Linked DNA regions of Homo sapiens: regions 1, 2, 3, 4 and 5 are each linked to region 6. The links come from fine-mapping of genetic effects on gene expression. A gene starts in region 6. Each other region holds a variant in brackets. All regions are shown on one strand. Distances are from middle to middle.

Region 1 (4,000 bases), 23 kb after region 6:
CTCATTGGAACTTCTTGACTAAGTGGAAAGATACACTTCAATCCATGACACACACAAGACTCAAATAGGCTTGATGTATTTGTGATTAGTGTGAACTCAATTCTTGTTTTTTCAGAAGGAAGACCAATTCTCATACTCATCTTGAAACCCGTCTGACATTGTTCCTCCCAAGATTAGATAATCACGACAGAGCACCTCTACTCCTAACTGAACACGCATAAAATAAATAATTCCATCCCAGTCTGAGTGCGGGTCTCTCCCCAGAGGTCTACCCTGATTCTCTGCATGAAAGAGCCACTGGTTATTCTCCTCCCTTTATGCTGCGGGAGGCTAATTGCACTCACCACTACCTAGTACTGTTTTTAACTTTTCCTGTTTATTGCCTGTGTCTCCCACTAGAGGCTGAGTGATATGCGATGTGATCTTCTCAGTTTTGTTCACTTTTACATGTTATCCCCACAACAAGGTTTGTGGTGAGGCGTGGGTGGGAAAAAGGGAAATAATTCCTTCCTTCTTTCCTTCGTTCTGTCTCTCCTTTCTTTCTTTCTTTCTTTCTCTTTCTCTCTTTCTTTCTTTTTCTTTCTTTCTTTCTTTTTTTCTTTCTTTCTTTCTTTCTTCCCTTCTTTCTTTCTTTCTTTCTTTCTTTCTTTCTTTCTTTCTTTCTTTCTTTCTTTCTTCCCTTCTTTCTTTCTGTCTCTTTCCTTCTTTCTTTCTTTTCTTTCTTTCTTTTTCTTTCTTTCTTTCTTTCTTTCTTTCTTTCTTTCTTTCTTTCTCTCTCTCTCTTTCTTTCCTTCTTTCTTCTTCTTCTTCTTTTTTTTTTTTTTTTTTTTGAGACAGAGTTTCACTCTTGTTGCCCAGGCTGGAGTGCAATGGCACGATCTCGGCTCACTGCAACCTCCACCTCCTGGGTTCAAGTGATTCTCCTGTCTCAGCCTCCTGAGTAGCTGGGATTACATGCACATGCCACCACGCCTGGCTAATTTTTGTATTTTTAGTAGAGACGGGGTTTCACCATGTTGACCAGGTGGTCTTGAACTCCTGACCCCAGATGAGCCGCCTGCCTTGGCCTCCCTAAGTGCTGGGATTACAGGCGTGAGCCACCACGCTTGGCTGGAACTAATAATTTCTTAAGCACTCTGTGCTAAGATATTTTACATACTCTAGCTCATTCATTCTTACAACAGCCCTGGGAGGTGACTGTCATTACTCAGTTTTACAGAGAAGGAAACCCAAGTTCCAATGTCTCCTAAATGGCATCTTGTGTGTTTGAACGTTTCAAGTTTGTGAGGAGTGCAATCAGTATCCAAGAAAGTGCCACTTAGAAAGAAAAAGGCTTAAAGAAGGAAAATGTTCTGGGATGATGAAAATCTAATACCTAAAGGTGTCAATTATGGATGTGATGTTAACTAACCTTTATTGGGCTTCATGCTGTTGGGCACTGCATTGGGCACCTTATTTGGGTAGATATTATTCTCATCCCCATTTAATAAATGCAGAAAGTAAGATAAGCAGGGATCAAGTAACATTCCCAATATCACATAGCTAGTACTGATGAGGCTGGGATTTGAATCTTGGTCCTCTAACTTCAGGGTCCAGATTCTAAACAAAGATGTGGGGAAGAAGGGAGGTGTAACTTGTAAAATGAATGAAAAATAATGCTTTCCTTTGAAGTGTTAGATTTAGGGTTCAAGCATTTTTGATCCCTGAGACTAATTATAATAGCATCAACTAATTTGCATGGCACTTCTTACATTGCAAAGAATTTTCTCACCTGCAAGTTTGTGGTAATCCTCATATGGCTTTGAGATGACTTTGAGAAATAGGAGAAGTCAGTGTTCATTGTTTTTTTTTTTTTGCAGAAAAATGTTTATTTCCCAATTTTCAGGTTTTCATTCAGTGAAACTTTTCATGATGATTTTGAAATTTATAAACAAAACAAACAGGAATCATTGGAAATGATGAAAGTCAGGTATGAACCACCCGACAACATGGAGAAAAAATAGAAAACAGTTATTGATTATGGTCAGAATTCTGCCATAATCAAATTCTTACCTGCCCTCTTCTTGTTCCTTAGAATAAGAATCTAATTAGCTGGCTTTATTCCTAGACAGACATAGTTGTGACTGTGTTTCATTGATTTTGGGTAGCAAACATACTTGGATGAACCTACAGTCATTTTGAGAGAAGAGCATGGTCTCTAAAGATTGAGCATGGTCAAATGAGAAAACAAAGTTACTATCTACAGAGTTTGGGGTGAAAATACACAACCGATGATATCAAAATCATACTTTATAAATGGTGGTATTTGTGTTTAATGTTATCACTTAATAGACCTACTCACTGACAGCATAATACAAATCTATTATTCTTTCAGAGTTATAAAGTTATATAGCATTAAAAGCATTTTATAAGCTTATTTTTT[TA/A]TTATTATACTTTAGGTTTTAGGGTACATGTGCACAACATGCAGGTTAGTTACATATGTATACATGTGCCATGTTGGTGTGCTGCACCCATTAACTCGTCATTTAGCATTAGGTATATCTCCTAATGCTATCCCTCCCCCAACCCCCCACCCCACAGCAGGCTCCAGTGTGTGATGTTCCCCTTCCTGTGTCCATGTGTTCTCATTGTTCAATTCCCACCTATGAGTGAGAACATGCAGTGTTTGGTTTTTTGTCCTTGCAATAGTTTGCTGAGAATGATGGTTTCTAGCTTCATCCATGTCCCTACAAAGGACATGAACTCATCATTTTTTATGGCTGCTTGGTATTCCATGGTGTATAAGTGCCACATTTTCTTAATCCAGTCTATCATTGTTGGACATTTGGGTTGGTTCCAAGTCTTTGCTCTTGTGAATAGTGCCACAATAAACATATGTGTGCATGTGTCTTTATAGCAGCATGATTTATAATACTTTGGGTATATACCCAGTAATGGGATTGCTGGGTCAAATGGTATTTCTAGTTCTAGATCCCTGAGGAATCGCCACACTGACTTCCACAATGGTTGAACTAGTTTACAGTCCCACCAACAGTGTAAAAGTATTCCTATTTCTCCATATCCTCTCCAGCACCTGTTGTTTCCTGACTTTTTAACGATCACCATTCTAACTGGTGTGAGATGGTATCTCATTGTGGTTTTGATTTGCATTTCTCTGATGGCCAGTGATGATGAGCATTTTTTCATGTGTCTTTTGGCTGCATAAATGCCTTCTTTTGAGAAGTGTCTGTTCTTTTCCTTGGCCCACATTTTGATGGGGTTGTTTGTTTTTTTCTTGTAAATTTGTTTGAGTTCATTGTAGAGTCTGGATATTAGCCCTTTGTCAGATGAGTAGATTGCAAAAATTTTCTCCCATTCTGTGGGTTGCCTGTTCACTCTGATGGTAGTTTCTTTTGCTGTGCAGAAGCTCTTTAGTTTAATTAGATCCCATTTGTCAATTTTGGCTTTCATTGCCATTGCTTTTGGTGTTTTAGGCATGAAGTCCTTGCCCATGCCTATGTCCTGAATGGTATTGCCTAGGTTTTCTTCTAGGGTTTTTATGGTTTTAGGTCTAACATGTAAGTCTTTAATCCATCTTGAATTAATTTTTGTATAAGATGTAAGGAAGGGATCCAGTTTCAGCTTTCTACATATGGCTAGCCAGTTTTCCCTACACCATTTATTGGCTAGCCAGTTTTCCCAACACCATTTATGAAATAGGGAATCCTTTCCCCATTTCTTGTTTTTGTCAGGTTTGTCAAAGATCAGATAGTTGTACATATGTGGCATTATTACTGAAGGCTCTGTTCTGTTCCATTGGTCTATACCTCTGTTTTGGTACCAGTACCGTGCTGTTTTGGTTACTGTAGCCTTGTAGTATAGTTTGAAGTCAGGTAGTGTGATGCCTCCAGCTTTGTTCCTTTGGCTTAAGATTGACTTGGCAATGCAGGCTCTTTTTTGGTTCCATATGAAATTTATTTAATTAATTAATTTGTTTTTTTAGTATTTATTGATCATTCTT
Region 2 (4,000 bases), 180 kb before region 6:
TTTTTACCACAAGAAAAAAACAACCATTTTTTTATGGAACATAGACTTAAAAGGTTAAGTACATACAGGGTTTTGGATTTTTTGTCTTTTTAATACTTGATTCTATTTACTCATCCTTTACTACAAGTTGGATCACTAGATTAGGGTTTTGGAAGGTTTAGCAGAGCAGAGAAGTATAGCAAACAGAATTCGTTCATTTAACATTTATTGAGCACTTCCTGGGTAGCAGGCCCTATGCTTTAAGTTGATAATTCAGAGAAATAAGGGACTTGACCCCCAGATGCCTCTTTTGTGGAAAGAACCGGAGAAGCCGTTTTAACATAAAGCAGGAAATCCTGAAAAATTTTATATGCCATTAACATTTTATTATTAAAGCATACAGACATACAGTCATACATCAAAGTTTCAAAACTTTTATTATGGAGAATTTAAAACATACACAGAAGTAAAGGAAGAATACCGTGAACCGCCTTGTGCCTGGCTCTAGCTGGCATCCACTCATAGCGTCTTTTGTTTCTTTATATCCCTCTCCCAGTCCATTTTTGGGGGTACATTCTTGTTCTTTTCATTTTATCTGTAAATATTTTAGTACTTTCACTGAAAGATAAGGGCTGTTTTTCTTAGAATGAATCACACAATACCACTATCATCCCAAAGTTATTTCACAGTTTTGTGTGTGTGTTTGTGTGTACTGTGATTTGTTTGCATCAGGATGTAAACAAGGTCTACACATTACATTCGGTTGATAGGTTTTCTTCAATATCTTTTAAGCTATAGGTTTTCCTTATTTTCTGTCTTATTGAAATGTTATTTACTGAAAAAATCATGCCGTTTATCTTGTGCACTTGCTCATACTATTATATATGAATTTTGCGAAATGATTTTTTTGCTTTGAAACAGTAGTGACCACTTATTCTTCACATAGATCCATTACTTAATCATGGGCATGCAAGATGTTGCAATTCTAATTTCATCATTCCTTTTTCATTTATTCGCTGGAATACTAGTACAGAGAAGACTCTTTTTACAGACTGTTCAGTTACCCAGAGGTATAGCTTATACAGGGAAGTCAGGTTAAATGAGTGACTCTTTCTCTTTACTTACAACTCTTGGAGGGTCCCTAGCATTTCCAAAAATGGCCAGTGCTTTTTCCTTTATTTAAAAAGTATCATTATAAACACATACTCTTTTCTTTTTCTTTTTCTTTTTTTTTTTTTTTGAGACAGGGTCTTACAATGTCGCTCAGGCTGGAGTGCAGTGGTGTAATCATGGCTCATTGCAGCCTCAACCTCCTGGGCTCAAGCGATCCTCCTGCCTCAGCCTCCCAAGTAGCTGGGACCACAGGCATGCACCACCAAACACAGCTAATTAAAAAAGAAATCGTTTTTGGAGAGATGGGATCTCACTGTGTTGCCCAGGCTGGTCTTGAACTCTTGGCCCTCAAGAGATTTTCCTACCTCGGCCTCACAAAGTACTGAGATTACAGGTGTGAGCCATCACGCCCAGCCAGCATGTGAATTTAATATGTTTGATGATTTCTTAAGTTCATTGCAGTTATTCTTTAATGAGTTAATTACATTAATTAATGATAGATCTCACTATGTTGCCCAGGCTGGTCTCAAGTGATCCTCTCTCCTTACCCTCCCAGGTAGCTGGGACTATAAGGCACAAACCAGTTTACCCAGCCACAGTTATTCTTATTAATGATCAAATTGTCCCTTCTTTTTTTCTTGAGACAAGAGTGTTGCTTTTGTTGC[C/A]CAGGCTGGAGTGCAATGGCATGATCTCAGCTCACTGCAACCTCTACCTTCTAGGTTCAAGCGATTCTCTTCCCTTGGCCTCCTGAGTAGCTGTGATTACAGGCATGCACCACTACGCCCGGCTAATGTTTTATTTCTTATTTTTATTTTTGGAGACAGAGTCTCACTCTGTCGCCCAGGCTGGAATGCAGTGGCGCAATCTCAGCTCACTTCAGCCTCTGCCTCCGGGTTCAAGCAATTCTTCTGCCTCAGCCTCCCAAGTAGCTGGGACAACAGGTGCGCACCACTACGCCTGGCTAATTTTTGTATTTTTAGTAGAGACGGGGTTTTATCACATCGGCCAGGCTGGTCTTGAACGCTTGACCTCAGGCAATCCGCTAGTCTTGGCCTTCCAAAGTACTGGGATTACAGGTGTGGGCAACCACGCCCGGCCCTAATTTTATATTTTTACTAGAGATGGGATTCTCCATTTTGGTCAGGCTGGTCTCGAATTCCCGACCTCCGGTGATCCCCCTGCCTCAGTCTCCCAAAGAGCTAAGATTACAGGCATGAGCCACTGCACCTGGTCCACATTGTCTCTTCTTTGGCCAATGGGAGTGCCTTCACATTAGCTCCTGGGTCATTTTGGCATGGGTGCTTCTGATGGCTTCTTGCTTTCTTGTGTGACAAGATGTCCAGGCTCATCTTGTACATTAACAGCCATAGATCTGGAATTATCCCTTTCTTTAACCAGCCCTGGTTCCTTTCAGAGGGAAATTGTATTTAGTGACCACAGTCTGGAAACTACAGATTGGTTGTTACTTCTAGGCCTTTTCAGTGAATGGGGCTAGGAAATACGTTATTTTTAAGGTAAAATATTTTATGAGTTTCATACTGATTTTTCCATTATAAACTTAGGAACAGATGATTTTGTTGAATTTCTTTAATTTTATCTTTGTCTCATGCTAAAAATTTTGGTTCTTGATCATAATCATATTGATACCATTACTTGTCAGTGTTACTGCTAACAATATGATTACTGAAAATAGTTTAAGAATTAAAAGCACTTTCCCAAATTCTTTTCATTTTTAGGATAGATTCCTATAGGGATGTCTGGTAAAACTGTTTTAAATCATTTGAAATAATTCCTTTTTGCATGATTATACCACCAATTCAACAAATATTTAGGGTCATTTCATTTTGCTTTTGAATTTTAGAGATGACAGTTTTTCAATTATTTTTTAAACAATTATGGAAAACATATACATGGTTCCAGAGCTAAATGTGTAAAACAAGGCAGAATCAGAGAAATCCATCTCTGATTGTGGTTCCCTCTATTTTTTTTCCTGCATTCCATTTAAAACATGAGCAAGAGTGTGTGTGTGTGTGTGTGCATGTCCATGCATGTGCACACACGTATAGTTTCTGCCTCCTAATCCCGTCTTAGGTGAATGGTAGCACACTATGTATAATTTTCTTCTTGCTTTTTTGTCTTCCTATTTTTCCTGCTGATCACTCCATAGAAGTATATAGAGACATTTGTCATGCCTTTTTGTCTATTTCATTGTGTGAATTTACCAGTTTATTGTCAGTCCCATATTAATGGACATTTGGATTGTCTTTAGTGTCTTGCTGTTAGAAATAGTGCTGCAGTGAATACCTTGTATATACATACTTATTTTTTGTTGTTGTTGTTGTCTTTTAGAGGGATATTTCAGTTTTAAATAAAACAACTTGACTTCAGGAAGTATTCAAGCGTAATGTTACTGCTACTGATGGATTGTTCTGGGAATAGTGGAGGATGCAAAAGGCCAGTCTTGTGATCTAGGGTAGTAATCTTTCTTTGAGTATTATGGGTCCTCTCAGTTCTGTATTATTGTTCTTGTAAAAACCACATTTATAGAGTAGCTTCTGTGTTTTCTAGTTTCACTCTGTTTAAAGTAGATTGAGACTTTAGGAACATCTGAAGCAGTCAGAGCATAGAATTCTATCTTTTTTTTTAAATGTAAATTTTTTTTGTAGAGATGGGGTCTTGCTGTGTTGCCCAGACTGGTCTCAAACTCCTGGCCTCAAGTGATCCTTCTGCCTCAGCTTCCCAAAGTACTGGGATTACAGGTATGAGCCATTGCACCTAGCCAGGATTCTGGTATTTTAGTGTTGTTTTCTAGTCTTTTATAGTTGTTTTATATATACTCAATTTGTCAAAAAATTTTAAGGAAAGTAATATGCCTGTATGGATGCTTTCCAAAGTATTCAACATAGGT
Region 3 (4,000 bases), 210 kb before region 6:
TTTTTTAAAAAAGAAAACAACTTGTGGTTTCAATTGGGATTGTCTTGGTTCTATAGATCAGTTTGTGGAGAATTGCTATTTTAATGTCATCGAACCTTTCAATACATGAACATGGTATAGCTCTCCATTTATTTAGTTCTTTAATTTCTTGCAACATGTTTTTTAGTTTTGCAGTGTACAGGTCCTATGCATATTTTGTTGAATTTATATCTTAATATCTTACATTTTTAATGTCATTGTAAATAGGATTAAAAAATCATTTCTCAAGTATTCCTTGCTAATGTGTAAAAATACAGCTGATTTTTGTATATTGTCTTTGTGTCTTGTAGCCTTTCTGAATCCACTTACTAGTTCTGGTAGTCTTTTGGTTGGATTTTCTCCACATACAGTCATTGAATAAAGACAGTTTTACGTCTTCCTTTCCACTCATGTGCTTTCTATTTCTTTTTCTTGCCTTATGACACTGATGAGGACCTCAAGTCCAATATTATGATAGAAGTGGTGAGAGCAGATGTCCATGTCCTGTTGTCAATTTGAGGGAGAAAGCATTTAGTCTTATATGTGGTACAAAAAGCACTAACTACAACATTTTAAAAATGTTAAATTGGACTTAATAAAATTAAAACGTATGCACTTTAGGAGATGTTAAGGAAAAGAAACAGTATACTATAGACTGGGAGCAAATGTTGGCAATTTATGTATCTGACAGAGGACTTTTATCCAGCATATATAAAGAACTTCAGTAAATTAAGAAGAAGCTAGAGAACTCAAATTGCAAAATCGGTAAAAAAAAAATTTGTGGAGCAACTTCACAAAATAAGGTATTTGAAATTCTAGTAGACATACTAAAAATTCCCAATATATTTATTAAAGGAAATTATGAGCAACTTTTTGCCTACAAGAAGGGTCAAAATGAAAAAGACTAACAATACCAAGTGTTGGTGAGGATGTAGAGCAATCAGAATTTTACATAAATTGCTGATAGGAATGTACAGGCACTTTGGAAAACTGTTTGACAGTTTCCTATTAACTTAAACATGCACTTACTGTATGACCTAGACATTTACACCCCTGGGTGTAAAATAAAACCTTAAATTCACAAATGACTTGTACTCAGTGCTTAACACCGGAAAGAGTATAATCTTTCAACAAGTCTGCAATGGGATATTAGGAGAAAAAAGGAGTGAATTGCACAGTGTCACTATATGAAATTAAAAACATTATGCTGAGCAAAAGAAGCCAGACAAAACACTACATTCTGTATGATTTGATTGATGTGTAATTCTAGAACCACCAAAACATTAAGAGAGCAGATTAGTGGTTGCCTGAGGTTATAGGTAGGGGTGGGGAATGACTGCAGAGGAGCAAAAGAGAACTTTCTGTGGTGATGGAATTACTCTGTATTTTGATTGGGTGGTGGTTATACTACGTATACACTTTTTATACACTTTTGTCAGAACTTCACATTATGCTTAAGATGGGTGCATTTTATTTTATGTAAATTATGTCTTAATAGAGTTGTTTTTAAAAAGGGTCTAAAAAGCATTTACAGACTGAACATATACCTATGTGTATATATACTGAGATTTTATGTAAAATATTTAAATGTATGTATACTCATAGGAAATGTCTAGAAGGATGTTAAGCAAATTGTTA[C/T]TAATTATGTCCAGGTGGTGAGAATTTTAGGTGATTAAAAAAATGATTGGACTCTTTATATCATTTGAATTATTCCTTTCAATGAACACATCTTTGCCAAAGAAAAGAAGTTTTTTTTGTTATGTAGAAGTTTGATTATCTAGATGTTTTCATTTTTCAAATATTGAATAGATATTACAATATTTATAAATTATGTATAGAATGTAAGTGCTGTTATTCTGTAATCACCAGTTAGGAACAATCTACATTACTTTTGATGCCCTTCATCTCTCTTCTCTGATCCCATTCTGTTATGTTCCCAGAGACATAACTGCTACCCTGAATTTTGTTTTTATTATTTCATTGCTATAGTTTTACCACATTTGTATCTCTAAGCTGTGTTGTTTTGCCCTGCATGCTGTTGAACTTTATGACTAGAATTGTATTGTGGGTAAACTTCTTTCATTTGCTTTTTTATTCCGTATGAGATTTGAGACTCATTCATATTTTTGTATGGCCGTAGTTCATTGGTGTCTCCTTGTCTTATTGTGTTACATTATGAATATTCCACAATTTGTCCTTTGTAGTACTGATGAATGACTGGATTGTCCATTTTTTTTCTATCATGAGCAGTGGTGATGTGAACATTGTGCATGTCTTTTTATGCTCTTGGGCAAGAGTTTCTCTTTGTGTATGGTCAGGTGTATAGCTGCTGGGTTGTAGGATAATGCATTTCTTCAACTTTTCTAGAAGTAGTAGTTTTCTGTTGCTGTGTAACTAATTACCACAAACTTAGAGGCTTAAAACAACACACATTTTAAAATCTCATGGTCCTATAGGTCAGAAATGCAGTAGGCTTGGCTGGGTTATCTGCTCTGGGTCTTAGGAGGCTGAAATCAAGTTGTCAGTAGGACTGCATTCTTTTCTGGAGGCTCTGGAGATAAATCAACTCCCACACTTATTTGGGTTGTTGGTAGAATTCAGTTCATATGGTTGTAGGACTGAGGTCCATGTGTCCTTGCTGGATGTTAGCTGATGGTCGTTCTCAGCTTCTACAGGCCATACATTTCTTGCCTTGTGATCCTCTTTCTTTCTTCATCTTCAAAGCCGGCAATAGGAGGTTGAATCTCTCTCATGCTTTGAATCTCTCTGACTCATATTTTTTTCCTTCTCTAGATGGAGACCATTCTCTGCTTTTAAGGGCTCATATGATTTGATTGGGTCCACTGGGATAATCTAGATTACTCTATTTTATCTCCGTGGTCCTTTCACAGCTATACTCAAATTAGTGTTTGAATAACCAGGGGCAGGAATCTTGGAGGACTATCTTTAGATTTCTGACTACCACTGTATATAATGTTGTTTTCCATAGTGGTGGTACCAGTATGCATTTACCTTAGCAGACATTGGAGTTCTTGTTCCATGTCCTTAATATTGTCACTTAATATTGTCAGATATTTAGGCTGAGAAGTGGTATCTCATGGTGTTTTTAATCTGTGGGTCCATAATCTGTGGGTCCATATTTATCCATAAGTAAAGATAGTTTTATTTTGTTGCTTTTTAAAAAGTTTTACATAAATAATTTTATTCTGTATGTATTCTCTAACATGTGAGATTTTCCCTCAGATTTGTGCTTTTGTGGTTTGAGTTTTAATAACTACTGTATGGTGTTTTATTGTATGAATAGATCACAATTTGTTCATTCTTTCATTGATGAAAATTTAGATTGTTTCTTAGTTCTTGTGAATGTGTGAGAGAATTTCTTGATATATATATATATATATATATATATATATATATATATATATGATTGTATATATGTTGGTAGAATCTAGAAGTGGAAATCATGTGCATCTTCCCTGTTTTACTATATAGACTTACAAAAAGTAGATTCTTTCCTTTCCTCCTTTTTTTTTTTTTTTTTTTTTGGAAATGAAGTCTCGCTCTGTCACCCAGGCTGGAGTGCAGTGGCACGATCTTGGCTCACTGCAACCTCCGCCCCTCCAGGTTTAAGCAATTCTCTGCCTCAGCCTCCGGAGTAGCTGGGATTGCAGGCGCGTGCCATCACCTTCCCTCCATTCTTTTTTGCTTTCTTTTGTTACTGCTTTTATCCAATCTGACAAGCATATGTCTTTATTGTCTTTAAAAGAGCTACACAGGTAATGTCACAATGCTAAAAAAGTCAAATACTGTAAGTACATAAAGAAAAAGTCTCATCTAGTTATACTGGGTATTTTAATAAAAGTAGCATCATACTACATACTATATTTTGAAATATGCTTTTTCACCTAGATCAATACATACAGATCCGCATTCTTTTAATAATGATGTAGTATTCCTTTGCAGGTTGAGTTTTATTTACTAT
Region 4 (4,000 bases), 22 kb before region 6:
TTTATCAAGATTGTTTTGGCTATTCTGGGTCCCTTCCATTTCCATATGAATTTGCAGAATTGACAGCTTGTCAATTTCTGCAAAGAAATCAGCTAGAATTTTGATAAGGGTTGTGTTGAACGTGTACATTAATTTGTGGGGTATTGCCATTTTAACAAAATTAAGTCCTCTGATTCATGAACATGAAATGTCTTTCAACCTATTTAGATCTTCTTTAATAATGTTAAACAATGTTTTGTAGTTTCATTGTACAAGTCTCAGACTACTTTGTTAAATTTATTCATAAATGTTTACTGTTTTTGATGCTATTGTAAATTGAACTTTTTCTTACTTTTATTTCACATAGTTGGTTGTTAATGTATAGAAAAACAATTGATTATCTTGTATCTTGCAATCTTGGTGGTTTATTAGTTCTAATAATTTCTTTTGGTGAATGCCTTCAGATTTTCTATATATAAGATCATGTTATTTGTAAATTGTGGTAGTTTTACTTACTGTACTCCATTGTGGGTGCCTTTACTTATCTTTTTATTCCCTAACTGAGCTGGCTAGACCCTCCAGTACAATGTTGAATAGAAGTAGCAAAAGTGAACATCTTTATCCTGTTTCTGGATTCAGCCTTTCATCATTAAGTATAATGTTAACTGTGAATTTTCTTTTTTTGTGTATGTGGGGGGACGGAGTCTTGCTTGTCACCATGCTGGAGTGCAGTGGCATGATCTCAGCTCACTGCAACCTCCGCCTTCTGGGTTCAAGTGATTCTCCTGCCTCAGCCTCCTGAGTAGCTGGGACTACAGGCGCATGCCACCACACACAGCTACTTTTTGTATTTTAGTATAGACGGGGTTTCACCATGTTGGCCAGGATGGTCTCAATCTCTTGACATCGTGATCCACCCGCCTTGGCCTCCCAAAGTGCTGGGATTACAGGTGTGAACCACCACGCCCAGCCTAATTGTGAATTTTCAAACCTTTATCAGGTTGAGGACATTTTCTTCAATTCCTATTTTTTGAGTGTTTTATCATGAATGGGTGTTGGATTTTGTCAAATGCCTTTTTTGTATGTCTATTGAAATGATTATGTACTTTGTTTTGTTTTGTTATTTACTCTATTGATATGGTGAATTCAATTAATTGATTTTTGGATGTTAAACCAACTTTGCATTCCTGGGCTAAATCCCACATGTTCATATTGTTTAATGCCTTTTATATACTTCTGGGTTAGGTTTGCTAGTATTTCGTTGAAAATGTTTATATCTATATTGCTAAGGGATATTGGTTTATAGTTTTCTTGTGATGCCTTTAGTTTTGGTATAATATGGGTATGAGACAATGAATTGGGAAGTGTTCCTTCTATTTCTTAAAAGAGTTTATGCAAGATCAGTATTAATTCTTTAAATGTTTGATAGAATTAGCCAGTGAAGCTATCTGGGTCTGGGCTTCTATTTGTGGGAAATTTTAGAATTAGTAATTCAATCTCTTTGGTTGTGATTGTTTTATTCAGATTAACTATTTCTTCATGAGTCAGTTTTGGCAGTTTGCGTCTTTCTAGGAATTTGCGCATTTCATTTAACTAGTTTGTTGGCATGCAATTGTTCATAGTATTCTTTTTTATTAATTTTAATTTCTGTATTGATTTTCCCTCATTTTATGAGTCTCATTTTTCCTTTTTTATTCATTTTAATTTCTGTATTGATTTTCTCTTATTGCTCATTTTAATGGTTTGAATCCTCTGGTCAGTTGGCTGAAGAGTTGTCAATTTTATTGCTGATCATGTATCACTTTTATAATTGAATTGTTATAAGAAGACATAAGAAGTAAGAGGCAACCCCTACAATGGAGAACATTAAGGTACACTCAAGCTTTTCTGCCCATTCTTCCTACATGCCAATATGGTTGATCCAAAGTTATTTTCATTACTCTCCTCTCCATCTCTTGTCTGGAGTTGTAGGTAAGGTGAAGTTTGGGGATTGTGCACCCACACTGGGAGCTGGTGCCTTGGTGACTTTCCAGCAGTGACAGGCCATACACTGTGGAAAGGGTTTATTTCATACCATGCTCTTGAGATAGAAGAAACCATGGCCCCGTGGCCACTCGATCTGATGTCATAACTCACCGATATTGTTTTTGCCGTGTTTCCAGTTCTTTACGTCGGTGTTGCTTGAGAATGTGAATTTGGTCATCTCGGGCCAACTTTGCTGTAAAGAAAGAACAACATGAGAGGAGCCTGAGGAAGAACAATAACAATGCCCAATGCCAAGTGTTCAGGCTTCCCTCAGATGCCC[T/C]GCCCATGCCGAGTGCTTTATGTGCATGACCTCATTTGAGCCTCAGAGCACTTCCCCAATTAATGATGAAGAAACTGAGGCTTAGGGAAGTTGTGTAGCTTTGCTCTTGAACTTTACCCAAGGTCACACACCTAATTAGTGAATTTTCTTTTTTTTTTTTTAATTCTACTTTAAGTTCTAGGATACATGTGCACAACGTGCAGGTTTGTTACATATGTATACATGTGTCATGTTGGTGTGCTGCACCCATTAACTCGTCATTTACATTAGTTATATCTCCTAATGCTATCCCTCCCCCTTACCCCCACCCCATGACAGACCTTGGTGTGTGATGTTCCCCTTCCTGTGTCCAAGTGTTCTCATTGTTCAATTCCCACCTATGAGTGAGAACATGTAGTGTTTGTTTTTTTGTCCTTGCGATAGTTTGCTGAGAAGGGTGATTTCCAGCTTCATCCATGTCCCTACAAAGGACATGAATTCATCCTTTTTTATGGCTGCATAGTATTCCATGGTGTATATGTGCCACATTTTCTTAATTCAGTCTATCATTGATGGACATTTGGGTTGGTTCCAAGTCTTTGCTATTGTGAATAGTGCTGCAATAAACATACGTGTGCATGTGTCTTTATAGCAGCATGATTTATAATCCTTTGGGTATATACCCAGTAATGGGATGGCTGGGTCAAATGGTATTTCTAGTTCTAGATCCCTGAGGAATTGCCACAGTGTCTTCCACAAAGGTTGAACTAGTTTACAGTCCCACCAACAGTATAAAAGTGTTCCCATTTCTCCACACCCTCTCCAGCACCTGTTGTTTCCTGACTTTTTAATGATTGCCATTGTAACTGGTGTGAGATGGTATATCATTATGGTTTTGATTTGCATTTCTCTGATGGCCAGTGATGATGAGCATTTTTTCATGTGTCTGTTGGCTGCATAAACGTCTTCTTTTGAGAAGTGTCTGTTCATATCCTTCGCCCACTTTTTGATGGGGTTGTTTGTTTTTTTCTTGTAAATTTGTTTGAGTTGTTTGTAGATTCTGGATATTAGCCCTTTGTCAGATGAGTAGATTGCAAAATTTTTTTCCCATTCTGTAGGTTGCCTGTTCACTCTGATGGTAGTTTCTTTTGCTGTGCAGAAGCTCTTTAGTTTAATTAGATCCCATTTGTCCATTTTGGCTTTTGTTGCCATTGCTTTTGGTGTTTTAGACATGAAGTCCTTGCCCATGCTTATGTCCTGAATGGTATTGCCTAGGTTTTCCTCTAGGGTTTTGATGGTTTTAGGTCTAACATTTAAGTCTTTAATCCACCTTGAATTAATTTTTGTATAAGGTGTAAGGAAGGGATCCAGCTTCAGCTGTCTACCTATGGCTAGCCAGTTTTCCCAGCACCATTTATTAAATAGGGAATCCTTTCCCCATTGCTTGTTTTTGTCAGGTTTGTCAAAGATCAGATGGTTGTAGATGTGTGGTGTCATTTCTGAGGGCTCTGTTCTGTTCCATTGGTCTATATCTCTGTTTTGGTACCAGTACCATGCTGTTTTGGTTACTGTAGCCTTGTAGTATAGTTTGAAGTCAGGTAGCATGATGCCTCCAGCTTTGTTCTTTTGGCTTAGGATTGTCTTGGCAATGCGGGCTCTTTTTTGGTTCCATATGAACTTTAACGTAGATTTTTCCAATTCTGAGAAGAAAGTCATTGGTAGTTTGATGGGGATGAC
Region 5 (4,000 bases), 69 kb before region 6:
TGCACGTGTCCGGAAGGAACCCAGGAAACTCTTGGTCATTCCCTCTGGAGTACCAGGGTAAAACACATGTGCAAGAACTTTGTCAATAGCTGGGGGGAGGGGGCGTCACACACGACCCTCTGGTGACAGTGAGCAAAGCCTGGGCTGTGTGCTCTCCTGCCCTGCACACCCTGAGCTCTGTCCAGGCTGAGGCCGGGGGACCTGGTGGCGGCTGCAGCCTTCTGGGCCCTTCCAGCCTTGGAAGTCAGGATTCCTTTGCTCCAAGTGAGCCTTGGGGCCCGAGTCACAAAGCCCTGAGGCTGAGGAACCGCTTAACCTGGGGTGACCTGGGGCTGTGCCCCGCCCTGCCCAGCTTCACCTCGTTTTCCTGGAACTGGCTCAGCGCCCACACTGCACCCAGATGCCAGCAGGAGCGGCCGCGGTCGGGCAGCGTGTCCACGATCTGCTCAATGGTCACCACGCCCTTGGCAGTCGGTGGCGGGGCTCGCATGGTTGGGGGCGCATTGGGGATCCAGGAGCACCAGTCGTACTGCGGAGACGACCGCCAGCAAGCGTGGGCACCCCCGAAGCCCTGCTGCCCAGCTGCCCCCTGGGCCCCGTCCTCCCCGTGCCCCCCAACTCCAGCGGGCCCTGCAGTCCGTCCATCCTCTTTCCCCGCGGCCAGCGCCCTTGGCTGAGCGGGCAGAATCCATCCTGCAAGTCCCGTGCCAGGCCCCGAGGCTGTCCGAGGGTGCAGTACGCGTGCAGAACCGGGGCGGGGGAGGAGGCAGCGGCCTTGAGAAGGGAGCCCTGCCCAGCGGGCCCGGCCCTGCCTACCTGGCCGAAGTTGACCGCGGCGTGCTGGGCGGAGGCGGTGAAGATCACCACGGTCAGGTACTCCGACAGCTGCTCCCGGCTCTTGACCGACTTGGGGAAGCCTAGGGTGGAACCACCGGCGGGCTGAGGCCCAGTCCCTGAGGACCCCAGGGCCCGGCGCCCACCCCGTGCCCGGATTCCCTGCCCCAAGGCCGGAGGGCACCCTGGGCAGGACACCCCGGAGGGGTGGCGGAGGGGCCAGCGCTGCCGACTGCGGGGGAGCCGGGTCCGGAGACGTCCCGGAGGCCCTACCTGAGGACTTGCGGCCCCGCATGCCGTACACGTAGACATCGTTCACGAAGTCCTGCAGCTCCGGGTCCTCCTCCACCACCTGGTCGCCCTCGTAGTAGATGTCTACCACCTCGGCCGTGAACCTGGCTCAGGGGGCGCAGCCGGGGTGGGCGACCCAGCCAGGTCTGCGGAGCGGTGCCCGGCGGCAACCCCCTCACGGACGCTGGGACTCCCCCACCCCGTCCCCATTCAGCGCTAGCGGTGGAGGGGCCAGGCCCGCCCCAGGTAGTCAGGCAGGGGTCCCGGCTCCTCCCCCAGGACCACCGCCCCGCGGGCGCTCACGTCCTGATGGCTTCCCACACCAGGAGCCCGTCGTCCCGGTAGAAGTAGTAGGGGATGTCTTCTTTGCTCTCCATGCCCCGGGCCTTGATGGCCTCGGGAAAGCACAGGGAGGCATAGGTCAGGTCCTTCATGGCCCTCTGCACCATCTGCACGTGCCCACCGCCCCCTGTGGCGTTGGCCTGGAGTGGGAGGTAGAGTGCCCTGAGCGGGTGGCTCCTCCCACAGCTGTCCAGACCCATCCCTGAGGAAATGTGCCAGGGGAGGCGAGGAGGCCAGGCAGGCAGAGGTGCAAGCCCTTGTCCTGTGAGATGGGGGAGGGATGTTTAACGCAGAGAATGACAAGGGCAGCCGGGTGGAGAGGTG[C/A]TAGGGAGGAGCCTCCCGCCCAATCCAATGCAAGGGACTGAACCGTGGGGCTGCAGAGTACAAGAGGGAAGGGTGCGCTCCCAGCCACAGGAGGGCAGCAGGCGTGGGCAGGTGTGTGGGGGACCCCAGCACCAGCGGGCCTGGGCTGTGAAGTCTGCTCTAGTGCTGAGCACACGACCCTCAGTCATTGCTCTCAGTGACCCTCAGTTTCCAGGACCCATGCAACTCTGTTGAGGGCCTGTTGTGTGCTCAGGTGAGGGCTGGAGAGACCCACAAGGAGGGATCCTGGTCCTGATCCCGATCCCGGCTTCTGAGTGATGCAGACACACTCACAAGCTCACTGGCACATATGTGTGTCCACGTGCACACACACACATGCAAATACACCCAGGGGGCTGGGCTGTCGGTGCCACAGAGGTTTTGAAGAAGGACTTGGGTGCTGGGGTGCCAGAGATTGGTCCACGGTGGGCATTCAGCCCAAGCAGGACCAACCAGAGCTGCCCCCCAGCACTTTCTGTTTAGATGCGGCTGGGAGATAATGGCCACATGAGAACCTGAGGTGGAGCTACTATGATGAGCTCCTGTGCCCTCTCCCATGGGGGCCTGTCTGCAGCAGGAGAGTGTGATGCCAACACAGGTGAAAGAGACAGAAAGAGGGAGCCAGTGTGCATGCACCCTGGGGCATTGCTTGAGTCCCTGGATCCATTTCTGGCTGAGGCCCCCGACCCTCTATTGTGTCCAGGTATTTGAGATAAGGCATGTCTTGTCCAGCTGCAGCTGGTTTGAGTTGGGTTTTGTCATTTGCAGCCCAAACAGTGTCTCAACTTCAGTGGTCATCTGGCCTGGTCACTAATGGGCTGGGGAAAGGAGGAAGGTTGGGGCAAGGGCCCATGTGAGAGTCCAAGCTTGGTAAGGCTACAGAGGGCTCAAAACGAGGTGGGGTGCTACCTGAGGGATGCGAGGGCTGGGCAGGGCCTGGAGTCCCCGATGCAGGAGACAGTGGGTTGGGAGGGTTGGGACCCGGGAAGCAGAGTGCTGGGGAGGTCCAGGTCAGGGTGGCAGGGGTGTGGCAGATTAAGAGGCAGACACAGGTTCCTGGTGCGTAGGAGGTCAGGGGGCCATAAGGAGTGTGTTCCAGAGGGGGGTCTACACCCAGGTCCCAGAGGCTGGGAGAGGGGAGGGGTGGGAGGAGGGGACCAGGAGCCATCAGTGAGAAGGAAGACCTGGTGGTGCGCCTGGAGGAGTGCTCCTGGCTGAATGGCACGGGCTGGAGACATCAGGAGGATGCTGGAGCCAGTGCTCTGAGCAGACTCCAGCCTTCACCCTTCCAGGCCTCCTGAAAGGGTGTCTAGATCTCAGATAGGGAGTGAAGGCGGCCAGGCTGGGCTCTTCCAGGCAACAAGTAGGGTAGGAGGGCACCCACCTTGTCAAAGAGGCCACACTCGCAGATGAGCTGCTCACGGGCCTTGGTGTTGATTGCAATGGTGAATCTCACGTGTGCCACCAGCAGCTGGGGAGGGGAGAGGAGGAGGCCTCAGAGGGGGCCCAGTCAGGTGACCTGGTGCCTCAGGGACCCGCAGCTCCCCCACCCAGGCCTGCCCTATAGGATGATGCTGGGCGCAGGGAGGAAGTGAAGGCTGGGTGCTGATCTTTCTGCTGAATAAGTGCTGGAGGCCTGCACCCCTCTGATGCTTACTAAGCATGATAATGATTCAGAGGGTCCTGGCCAGCACTTGTACAATGCTTACCTCTTTGCTCCCTGAGTTCACTGTCTTAATCTGACCATCATTCTGTAAGGCAGCTGTACTATTTGACCTGTTTTACTGGTGAGGAAACTGAGGCACATGGGTACTTTTAGCATGCAGTCACCCCAGCAGCCAATGCTTGTAGGATTCGAGAACAGGGACGGAGAGTGATGGCAGGGGCGGCCATCAGCATCAGCCGAGGATCACCATGAACTCATTTGCCTTTTCCAACTCTACTGGCTGGCCAGCGAGGCCCGTGTGTCAGGCCCATGCCCCAGCCGCGTGTCCTGGGGAACAGCAGGCTCCTAGCTGTTTTCTTCCTTTAGGGGCATTACTGACTCTGAGAACATCTCTCCAGGGCTCCCTTTCTGCCACCCACTCCCAGCCACAGGTCCCCCTGTGGGATGTCAGTGATCCCTCCCACTCCACATCTCAGATGCCCTCCCATAGCAGGTGGGGCGGTA
Region 6 (4,000 bases):
GATGTGTGGAGGAGAATGGGGAGGAGGAAGCACTTACAAAGGGGAAGTAGCCTGTACCCTGTCCTTCTCCCCCAGGTGTGGGGAATCCATGAAATAATGGAAGTAAATGAAGGTGCGTCAGAAATGGCAGAGGGTGCCATCACCCTAAATGGACGACACATTAACTCCAGGGCACCGCAGTCCTCAGGGTCAGTTCCCCGACTGGGGCAACTAAGCAACTGAAGGTTGCTCTTGTACTCAACACCTAACTCTTCTTGAAGGGAGCTCAAGCCAGGATGCTAGTGAACTTGGCTGAGGGCCATGTCGTGCTACAGCGAGGGTATGGGCTCCTGGATAGGAATCGAGCCCATGGAGAGCTTGGAATCCAGAAAAAGAGTAGTTTTTACTTACTTTAGGCTCTGCACACCTAAAACACAAATTTTATCCAAGAGTAATCAGTTGAAACATGAACTTGCCGGTTGTATTTGTCCATTATGAGCAATTTCACAAGGTTTGATCAAATAATAAACTAAATGGTGAGAAGGCAGCTTGGTAAAGTCTAAATCTTTTTGGTCCAGTTAGGAGCTGGGGTGGGGTGGAAGGGAACTGATATTCCCTGCGCACCTGCAGTATGTCTGGGACTATTACCAGTCATTTACGGAGCGCTTCCTCTGTGCCAGGTACTGGATTAGGCACTTCATTAAAGGCTCAGTGAGAACTGCGACCTGCCCATGCTCATGGAAAAGAGTCGTGGGGCTGGAATTCAGGTCCAGATCAGCATTAGGAACTAGCTTCCAAATGCTGAGGGCTCCCTCGCGTCCTCACACCTAGCGTGGAAGTGTTCCCTGGTGTACATTCTGCTGGGAGGGAGTGCAGCCCCTCCATTTAGGAAAAGCCTCTCCTGGCCTGGGTTCTGTTCCTTCCCTTTAATTTCCTCTGGGGACTGTCCTGAGAATGTAAGCTGCCCAGGTGCCGTCTGAGCCACCAGATGGGCCTGGGCTCACCCATGACTCATGGACCAGACTGAAGCCAACCCTCCATTTTCAGCTGGGGAAACTGAGGCCCAGACAGACGGTAGAGTGAGCTGGTGGTCATGTCTGGACAGAACTCAGGCCTCTGGACCCGCTGACGTGCACCCTTCCCCACGGCTCACAGCTGGCTGCTCCGAGGTGCCCTCAGAGTTCTGTGAGCATGACTCATCTGCCTCTCCCTCCCTGTGCGACCTGCAGAAGGAGCCTAAGGAAGAGGTGGCACAAGAAACGCGGCCCAGTGAAGGGGGCTCCGGAGCCTCGGAGCCCAGATCTTGAAGTGGAGGGGAAACCTTGGGCCTTCTCCTCCCAGGGAAGACGCCTTGCAGGCGGCACGCGGGAAGTCTCCGTTTCCGACAGGGGTCGCGGCCGCCGCGAGGGGTCCTGGACGCTTGCCCACCAGGGTACCCACCGGCCACTGGGAGCCCAGGGCACGCCCCACCGCAGTTCTGCCCTCCCTGACAGGGTCCTGGACACCCCCAGTCCTGTCCGGGCCGCCCCGACGGGCCCTCGGCGCCCCCGCCCAGGCCTCTGCCGTCCAAACCGGGTCCCGGACGCACCTCAGCCCGCGCTCCACCCGTGCCCCGCCCGCGCTCACCGCGCCACGCTCGAAGTCGTTGTAGAAGGGCTTGTCCAGCAGGTGCTTCTCGCTGCAGCCCGCCGAGCCCACGAGGCTGAGGTAGATGTAGTCGTCAGTGCCGGCGAACCACTGGCTGCCAGTGGCCACGGTGACCGTGTAGGAGGGCATGGCGCGGGCCGCGGGAGCAGCGAGCGCCGGGAGCCTCGGCGCGGCGGTCCAGGTGTCCGCATCTAGCGCCGCAGCCTCCTCCCACCACTGGTCCCTGGCCCCGGTCCCGGCCCCGCCCCGGTCTGGCTCCAGGCTCCCGGCTGCCCCCGCCCCCGCCCCCGCCCCCGCCCCCGCCCCCGCAGTACTTCTCTCCCACTCTTCACGCGGCGCCGACTGGGCGGGACCTCGCCTCGGGCGGGGCAGGGGCCTCGCTCCTGGGTCTCTCCTCAGCGAGGTGTCTGTTCCTGCAGCCAGGGGACTGGGGCAACCTCGGCTGCCACCCCTCATCCATTCGTTCACTCGTTCTCTCCTGAATTGCTTCCACCCTTTGCCCTGCCTGCCTGCCTCGGCTTCGCCCAAGGCCAGGCTCCTGTAGGCCCTGGGGTGGAGCTGCGGGGACTCCCTACAAATCTAGGCACAGCCTCTGCTCTCCCCAAGTTCTCAGTGCCACTTGCGGTACTTGGAGCAGGGGTGCTCCGGGAGTCTGCAGAGGAAGAGCGACCCATGAGAGAATCAGAAGGGCTTCCTGGAGGAGGCCACCCCAGCGCTGATACTGAGGATGGATTCTGGAGCACAGAGGCTCCTTCAGCGCGGGCTTCTTCACTGGCTGGACCTGCGGCTCCTGGCGGGGGCAGGCGGGCGCCGAGACCGCGCCCAGGCCCAGAGATGGCCAGTGGTCGCGGGAGGCAGGCGGGACGGCACATCTGGACATGCGGGGCTGTCTAGGGGAGGCCAGGGGTCACGGGTCGGCTCTCTGAATCGCGGCGGGCAAATGCCTGGAAGGGTGTGGAGAAGGTTTCGCGCGCTCCTGGGCGGCTTCCCGCGGCTGGGGCCTGACCCCCAGGTTCCCGCCCACTCCTGGCGCCCGCCTCTCCCAGCCCCGCCGGCAGCGCAGGGTCTGACGGGCACACAGTCGCGTGTATTGATCTCGGCTAAGTTTAAACACTAGCTCACCGTGCGTGGGGCGGCGGGGATGTGAAGTCCCCAAAGGCGGCTGCCTACATTCTCACCAACGCTTCATGTCTGTGAAGCAGCAGAGTCCCTGTAGCATCTCCTCATACTGTCTTGGGTTTGTGCACCTGGCAAATGGCTTTGAACATCTTTTCACATGCTTGTTGGATATCTGTATATTTTTGGAGAGATGTATATTCAGATGCTTGACTCTTTGGAAAACTGGGCTATTTATCTTTTTTATCATTGAATTGCATTATTTATATATCCTGGATAGAAGTCTCTAATCGGATACATGACTTACAGACATTTTTATTGCTTCTGCGGGTTGTGTTTTCACTTTCTTGATGATGTTTGAAGCACAAAAGTATTTAACTTTAAGTCCAATTTCTTTTGTCGCTTGTGATTTTGGGGTCCTATCTGAGAAACCACTGCCTACAATAACATCTTAAAGATTTACTCCTAGGTTTTCCTCTAGGATTATTATAGTTTTAGCTTTTCATTTACATCCGTGACCCATTTTGAGTTAGTTTTTATGCATGGAGCGATAGAAGAATTCAAATTCATTGTGTTGCATGTGCATGTCCGGTTGTCCATGCATCATTTGTTGAATTCATTATTCTTTTCCCATTGCGTTGTCTTGACACCTTATTAAAAAGTAATTCATTATAAACATAACGGTTTATTTCTGGACATTGATTCTAGTCCACTGATCTGTAATGTACATGCTATACAGTGCCACACTGCTTGATTACCGCAGTGCTATAGTAAGTTTTGAAATTGGAAAATGTTAATCCACCAACGCTGTTCTTTATTTTTCAATATTGTTTTGGTTATTCTGGATCCTTTGAGATTCCATATAAATTATAGAATCAGCTTGTCAATTTCAGCCAAAAAGCAAGCTAGGATTTTGATAGGGGTTGAGTTGAAGCTGTAGATCAATTTGGGGAATATTGTCACTTTAACAATATTAAGTCTTCTGATCCATAGAATATGTTTCAGCTTATTTAAATCTTTTCTTTTCTTTTCGACTCTTTGGAGTCTCCCTCTGTTGCCCAGGCTAAAGTGCAGTGGTACAATCTCGGCACACTGCAACCTCTGCTTCCCAGGTTCAAGTGATCCATTTACTTAAATCTTTTCTGATTTATTTCAAAATATTTTGTAGTTTTCAGTGCACTTTTTATTTCTAAATAATTTATGTTTGATACTATTGTAAATGGAATTTTAATTCATTTTGAGATTGTTAATTGCTAGT

Direction of the effects. Alleles are on the strand shown, and positions count from the first base shown. SD is a standard deviation of normalised expression in the study named. Not every link is listed here.
For the expression in cerebral cortex of the gene that starts at base 1,819 in region 6, allele TA in region 1 goes with a lower level than allele A (moderate effect, 0.69 SD a copy in GTEx).
For the expression in tibial nerve of the gene that starts at base 1,819 in region 6, C is the high allele of the variant in region 3 and T is the other (small effect, 0.24 SD a copy in GTEx).

Evidence for each region. PIP is the estimated chance that this variant, and not a neighbour inherited with it, causes the effect.
Region 1: its variant is the best candidate, but not a certain one, in a credible set for the expression of ALOX5 in cerebral cortex (GTEx, PIP 0.50).
Region 2: its variant is the best candidate, but not a certain one, in a credible set for the expression of ALOX5 in monocytes (TOPMed, PIP 0.52).
Region 3: its variant is the best candidate, but not a certain one, in a credible set for the expression of ALOX5 in tibial nerve (GTEx, PIP 0.53).
Region 4: its variant is the best candidate, but not a certain one, in a credible set for the expression of ALOX5 in whole blood (TOPMed, PIP 0.50).
Region 5: its variant is the best candidate, but not a certain one, in a credible set for the expression of ALOX5 in whole blood (TOPMed, PIP 0.60).

What each region holds. Positions count from the first base shown.
Region 1 is chr10:45,349,175-45,353,174 of GRCh38, reverse strand. No RefSeq gene overlaps it. Among named protein-coding and RNA genes, the nearest start is that of ALOX5, 23 kb to the left of the region's middle. The variant TA/A (reference allele first, on the strand shown) is at 2,423.
Region 2 is chr10:45,552,963-45,556,962 of GRCh38, reverse strand. It overlaps a transcript of MARCHF8 not described here. Among named protein-coding and RNA genes, the nearest start is that of MARCHF8, 20 kb to the right of the region's middle. The variant C/A (reference allele first, on the strand shown) is at 1,758.
Region 3 is chr10:45,583,570-45,587,569 of GRCh38, reverse strand. It overlaps a transcript of MARCHF8 not described here. Among named protein-coding and RNA genes, the nearest start is that of MARCHF8, 50 kb to the right of the region's middle. The variant C/T (reference allele first, on the strand shown) is at 1,657.
Region 4 is chr10:45,394,052-45,398,051 of GRCh38, reverse strand. ALOX5 (arachidonate 5-lipoxygenase) reads right to left here. Exons shown (of 14, transcript NM_000698.5): 3 at 2,116-2,197. Among named protein-coding and RNA genes, the nearest start is that of ALOX5, 22 kb to the right of the region's middle. The variant T/C (reference allele first, on the strand shown) is at 2,285.
Region 5 is chr10:45,440,645-45,444,644 of GRCh38, reverse strand. ALOX5 (arachidonate 5-lipoxygenase) reads right to left here. Exons shown (of 14, transcript NM_000698.5): 9 at 3,215-3,301; 10 at 1,429-1,607; 11 at 1,108-1,229; 12 at 817-917; 13 at 359-529. It overlaps LOC102724323 (a long non-coding RNA gene), which reads left to right. Exons shown (of 3, transcript NR_120674.1): 3 at 1-77. Among named protein-coding and RNA genes, the nearest start is that of ALOX5, 68 kb to the right of the region's middle. RefSeq lists enhancers at 936-1,704, 1,705-2,475 and a silencer at 2,832-3,063. The variant C/A (reference allele first, on the strand shown) is at 1,792.
Region 6 is chr10:45,372,035-45,376,034 of GRCh38, reverse strand. It overlaps ALOX5 (arachidonate 5-lipoxygenase), which reads right to left and starts at 1,819. Exons shown (of 14, transcript NM_000698.5): 1 at 1,606-1,819. The coding sequence starts at 1,755. RefSeq lists enhancers at 832-1,440, 1,441-2,051.